2 separate regions of the Homo sapiens genome follow, and region 1 is linked to region 2. Evidence: fine-mapped expression QTL. Tissue or cell type: lung. Region 2 holds a variant in brackets; the other region holds the start of a gene. All regions are shown on one strand. Distances are from middle to middle. Region 1 holds the start of NOL10 (nucleolar protein 10). Region 2 overlaps NOL10 (nucleolar protein 10).

Region 1 (2,907 bases), 36 kb after region 2:
AAGTACTTTTTGACTACCTTAAATTGCCTTATTTGCTCACTTGTTTATTTCCCTTTTCCCCAACAGGGAACCTTATCTGAAATGTCCACTATAGATCCCAATACTTAAAACAGAGTTGCTTGCACACAGTAACTTCTCAATACATGTGGAGAATGAATGAACAAAATGAGAAAGCTCATGGGGTGTGAAGAACAACTGGAAGACAGGGAATTATTCAAACCAGAATTTTAGGAAGAAAGGAAAAACCTAAGCACTGGCTCCAAATTTTTGTAGAAGCAGACGCATGGAAGGAGAGCTATATTTATTCTGTTTTCCAAGGGCAGGACTCAGGCCAACAGTGGCATGCTATAAGGTGACATATTTGAAAACCACTTTCTAACAAGTGCAGAGTCTCAAAATGGAAATGAGCTTCCACAAAAGGTAGTGCTCAGTGGTAGTGCTTGGACAGAGGCTGGATCATCACGTATAAGAAACAAAAGACAAGTTTCAGAGCCTAAGTGTGTCATGCTGGACAAGTCACCCTTCCCCTTGCTGGATCTCAGCTGCATATTAAACGCATTATTAAATCTCAGCTGCATTACTAAACACGAGAAGATTGGAAGAGAATTACCGACTTGTCCAAGCCCTCTCCAACTTTAAGACTAGGAATCAGGTTAAGTTCAACAAGTCTCGAAAATACTGTCCTCTACACCATAAATTCTGCAGATGCGAAGTCTGTATCTCCCTTGTTCACTGTTGTATCCCTAAGACCTGGCAAATGATAGGGACTCCACAAACAGCTGATGGCCATATGGGGGAGAGATGTGTCAACGAATCTGCCACGTTTTCCTCCTCGATGTACGGCAGGGACTGTGAACACCCAAAGAGGCCCAAATGGTTGCGTTCTCTGGAACAGAGAACTTTACAAAAGTTCCAGCAAAGCTCACTGACCCTGATTATCCCTTGGTCCAGTTTCTGGCGCGGTGACGGCAGTGTCCTTGTCTCCCAATGCCGACACCTCCCCCGGAAATTGTCAGCCGCCTCTGGGCCTCCCCGAGTCGGGGGGTGACCAGCGTCCAGCTAAAACAGAGGCTAGGGCCGAGGAGAGGGGCGGCTGCCCCACGAGGAGGACGACCCCCAAGAGCTCGAGAGTGAGGGGGCCGGGAAGTGACTCACCTCAGGAAGGGACTTGCCGCAGCTGAGGCTGTAAATCTTCACCTCATTGAGGCTGGAGACCTGCATGGCGCCGCACAACACTGTTCAAGTCCCGGGTCCTTTCCCACCAGCGTGCTCGAGCACCGTAATCCCGGGACCTCCGAGCCCCTGCTCCGCGGCGTGCGGCCGCTGGCGCCGACTGATGACGCACTTCCTGGAGCCGGAACACGCGGGCAAGTTCCCGGAAGAGGGAAGGTGGCTGAATCCGGGAAGAGCGGCGGCCGGGAGAAAAACTAGTGAGGCTCTGACAACCCGGCGTGGCTGTCGGCGACGCTGCTACGGGCAAGACTAGACACAAGCCGGGCGCGGTGGCTCACGCCTGTAATCCCAGCACTTTGGGAGGCTGAGGCGGGCGGATCACCTGAGGTCGGGAGTTCGAGACCAGCCTGACCAATATGGTGAAACCCCGTCTCTACTAAAAATACAAAAAAATTAGCCTTGCGTGGTGGCCGGCATCTGTAGTCCCAGCTACACGGGAGGTTGAGGCAGGAGAATTGCTTGAACCTGGGAGGCGGAGGTTGCAGTGAGCTGAGATCGCGCCGCTGCACTCCAGCCTGGGGGACAGAGCGAGATTCCCTCTCAAAAAAAAAAAAAAAAAAAAAAAAACTAGACACAGCTCTCCCTGCTGTTAGCATCCCGAGCGGCAGGAGGAGGCTTTCGAGTCTCTGCCCAGGCCGAGATGTCATCCTCCCGGGCGGGGGCGAGGCAGTTCAGCGAGTGAACCCAGCGAATGAAGGCGACCAGGGTGCGAATTCCGAGTGGAAGTGTATTCTCTTCTCTCCTCCAGTGTTTCTGCGATGTTACGTTAGAAGTACTGTAGGCCGGGTGCGGTGGCTCACGCCTGTAATCCTAACACTTTGGGAGGCCGAGGCGGGCGGATCACCTGAGGTCAGGAGTTCAAGACCAGCCTAGCCAAGATGGTGAAACCCCGTCTCTACTAAAAATACAAAAATCAGTCGGGCCTGGTGGCGCGCGCCTGTAATCTCAGCTACTCTGAAGGCTGAGGTGGGGGAATCGCCTGAACCCGGGAGGCAGAGGTTGCCGTCAGCTGAGATCGTGCCACTGCAGTCCAGCCTGGGCAACAGAGTGAGACTCCGTCTCAAAAAAAAAAAAAAAAAAAAAAGAAGACTGTGGCGTCATCTTCAACCCATTCCTATCTCTGGCCCTCACTTTCAGTATCTAAACCTGGATATTTCTAATTATGAAATATTTCCTTAAAGTAATCTGTTTTCATTCCTCCTGCTGAAACTCAAATACTTAACTATTTTTGGATTATAACTTTCCCAAGTGATCTTCTTACTTCCTTTGATTTAATGAACAAATTATTTTATGCCTTACTTTCTAAAACCCAAATATTATTGTTTTGCTCTCCTACCCACAACATTTTGGAAACTCTCAAATACCAACACCACATTGCATCAGAATTAGGTTGAGAGTTCTTCGTGGACCCTATATCATTTGTCCTTATATTCCCTATCCACCCCATCCACCCCTACCCAGAGTACCAGAACAGTGCCTGGCCTCTATTAGGCATTGCTACATATTTACATTTAGCCATGTACGTAGGGATATATTCCTTAACTCTGTCCTCAAATTTAAGATCCTCCACAAATTTTTAATTTTCTACACTGGTTACAGTTAAGAAAAACTGTAAACATCTTTGGGAAAGGTGGCATAATAGAATGGTTAGATCACAGACTCTGGCTTGGCTTG
Region 2 (2,907 bases):
ATCAATCTTAGTTCTTTCCTTCCTGCCCCAACTTCTGTAATCCTTAGTAGTTGCTAAGCAGTGCCCACTGAATCTCTTCCATACTTCAAAAACCGTGGGGCCTGGCACTGTCGTTCTGTCCATTCCCATCCGGTTTCTCAGCTGGCTCCTCCCCCTCATTCTCCCAAATGAACCAGCTCCTGCTCACTTCTTATCTCACTCCCAGCTTTCCCTATCAGTAATCTCATTCATTCCCACCACTTCTGGGATAATCGCAAAACTTTCTATCTACAGACCTGCTTACCCCAAGACCACATTTTCTACTGGACGCCAGACACGCCCCCCAAGCACAAGTCTGCGGATCGGTTCAGGGCTTGCCGCCTAAGAATCCACCGGGAAGTGTGTTAAAAACACACGTTTCTGGCCAGGCGCGGCGGCTCACATCTGTAATCTCAGCATTTTGGGAAGTGGAGGCAGGCGGATCACTTGAGGTCAGGAGTTTAAGACCAGCCTGGCCAACATGGCGGAACCCCGTTTCTACTAAAAATACAAAAATCAGCCAGGCGTGGTGGTGCGTGCCTGTAGTCCCATCTACTCAGGAGGCTGAGGCATGAGAATCGCTTGAACCCAGGAGAAGAGGTTGCAATGAGCAGAGATTGTGCCACTGCGCTCCAGCCTGGGTGACAGAGCGAGACTCCAACTCAAAAAAAAAAAAAAAACCACACATTTCTAAGCCCTTTCCATAGACACTATGAGTGAGTACACCTAGTATAAGGTCAAGGGAGCTGTACCTTTAAAGCTGTGCAGATGATTTTGATGGGAAGCCAGATAGTGCCAGATACTGCCACTGTCCTGTCACCTCCTAATCCTCACACGTTAGAAAAAGAAGCCATAATCTTTCCAAACTTGCTCTCTCACCTGTGCTCCCCATCTCAGCTCAGAATATCAGTTACTTCCAAGGCACTTTTGTCCAAAACCAATCTACCCTTTGCACAGTGGGTAGACCTGCCTCTGAAAGCACAGTCGGAACAAGTCCTCTCTGACAGCACACGGAGCCCAAGACATTTAGCACATCATGCCCAACCCTCTACCACCCACCACTCTCTGCCTCCCACTTCAGCCTTCCCAGAGCCACCACAGCTCAGGCACAGGACACTCCTCCCCACCCCAACCGAGCCCTCTGTGCCCATCCTTTTTGGTCATCTTGGACTGCTCTCCCATGAGAATCACCTCAGCCCCCCAACTCCACCTAACCAAATCTCACTCGGCACTCCAGCTCAACGCAAAGCAAAATCTTCTCACTGCTCCGCTCTC[G/A]GTGGTCACAGGGTAAAAGCTCTCTCTCTCCAGCAAGCTGTCAAAGTACTCTTTGCACAAATGTGATAGGAGTTCTCACGCTCTGCCTTACTTCTCTCTATCAAGATGATCTGGGTACCTCTGCCCTCAGAGTAGAAACTATTCTCATTTTTCTCCCATACTCTGAAATTCTTCACAGATTTGCCTTGAATGCACTGTTAAATTTTGAAACCTAACATGTAAATTGCTGAATAGCATACAACTTAGAATTTACAAAACCTATGGCTTCATGAGCCATCTGTGTATTATCAGGCAATCTAGCTTTCTCCAAATCTCTACCCTCAATTTCCACACACTATTACTAATCACATAAAAGAGCTAAAGAGCACACTAAAATAGCACTTCACCTGCCTCCTACCTGTATGCTGTTACCACGTTCCACTAATAGCTGGGCGGGCTGAGCACTGAGTCATTAAGAGTGCCATTTTCTGAATCATCCACACCACTTCCTGCTCTTAATTCTTCTAAGTAAGTTAAATATCCAAGAATTGTGCTGACAAAGCCAAATTCTATCTTAAGAAATAAAATGGGTTTAAAACCTAAAAAAGTATAGCCTTTTTATTTGTCTCACTGAACGTTCACTACAGAATGCATCTTTTTATTTGTCTCACTGAACGTTCACTACAGAATGCATACCTGAGTTGGGGTAGAGACAAACATCATTAAGGTCATGCTCTGGCTCCAAGGAAGTAAATATTTTTCCCTAAAAATAGCAAGCAAAAACGAAGTATTAAAAGTTAAAGAACAACAACTTTGGCAATGTCAAACTGAAGCTGTAACTCAACCATCTACTCCTATGTAAAGAAATAAAATAGCCTACTTCAAATACAAAATTTAAATTCTTAAAAATCTTAGAGAATTTATCTTATCAATTTATCAAAAAATCCCATTTTATAGATGAAGAAACAGGCCTAAGGAGAAGAAGTGACCTGTCCAAAAAAAAGAAAAATTACAACATTTTAAAGATAATGTCAACATGGCAAGAAAAGATGAAGTTTGAATTATGCATCAACTTTAAAAAAAAATCTCTCATAATCTGTGAAGTGTACCCAGCTTAACTTGTATTGAAAGAAATCGGAAGACAGCTGGGAGCAGTGGCTCACACCTGTAATACCAGCACTTTGGGAGGCTGAGGCGTGGAGATGACTTGAGGTCAGGAGTTTAAGACCAGCCTGACCAACATGGTGAAACTCCGACTCTACTAAAAACACAAAAATTAGCCGGGCATCGTGGCCTGCAACTGTAATCCCAGCTACTAGGGAGGCTGAGGCAAAACTGCTTGAACCCAGGAGGCGGAGGTTATAGTCAGCCAAGATAGCACCACTGCACTCCAGCCTGGGGCGACAGAGTGAGATTCTGCCCAAAAAAAAAAAGAAAGAAAGGAAGAAAAGAAAGGAAGGAAGGAAGAAAGGAAAGAAAAGAAGGGAAAGAAGGGAAGAAAAGAAAAAGGAAAGGAAAGGAAAGGAAAAAAGAAAAGAAAACAAACCAATCAGAGGAGAGAGATGGCCAGCATGGAAAATGAGGACAACACTGCCATGCCTGCACCGCAAGGTTTCGAGGAGGATCAAGTGAGAC

Evidence for each region.
Region 1: NOL10 starts here. The variant in region 2 is fine-mapped to the expression of NOL10 in lung (TOPMed, PIP 0.95).

Annotation. Positions count from the first base shown.
Region 1 is chr2:10,688,641-10,691,547 of GRCh38, forward strand. NOL10 (nucleolar protein 10) reads right to left here and starts at 1,335. Exons shown (of 21, transcript NM_024894.4): 1 at 1,156-1,335. The coding sequence starts at 1,221. It also overlaps the pseudogene RN7SL832P. RefSeq lists enhancers at 782-841, 902-1,181.
Region 2 is chr2:10,652,513-10,655,419 of GRCh38, forward strand. NOL10 (nucleolar protein 10) reads right to left here. Exons shown (of 21, transcript NM_024894.4): 12 at 1,969-2,035. Among named protein-coding and RNA genes, the nearest start is that of NOL10, 36 kb to the right of the region's middle. RefSeq lists an enhancer at 1,444-2,643. The variant G/A (reference allele first, on the strand shown) is at 1,294.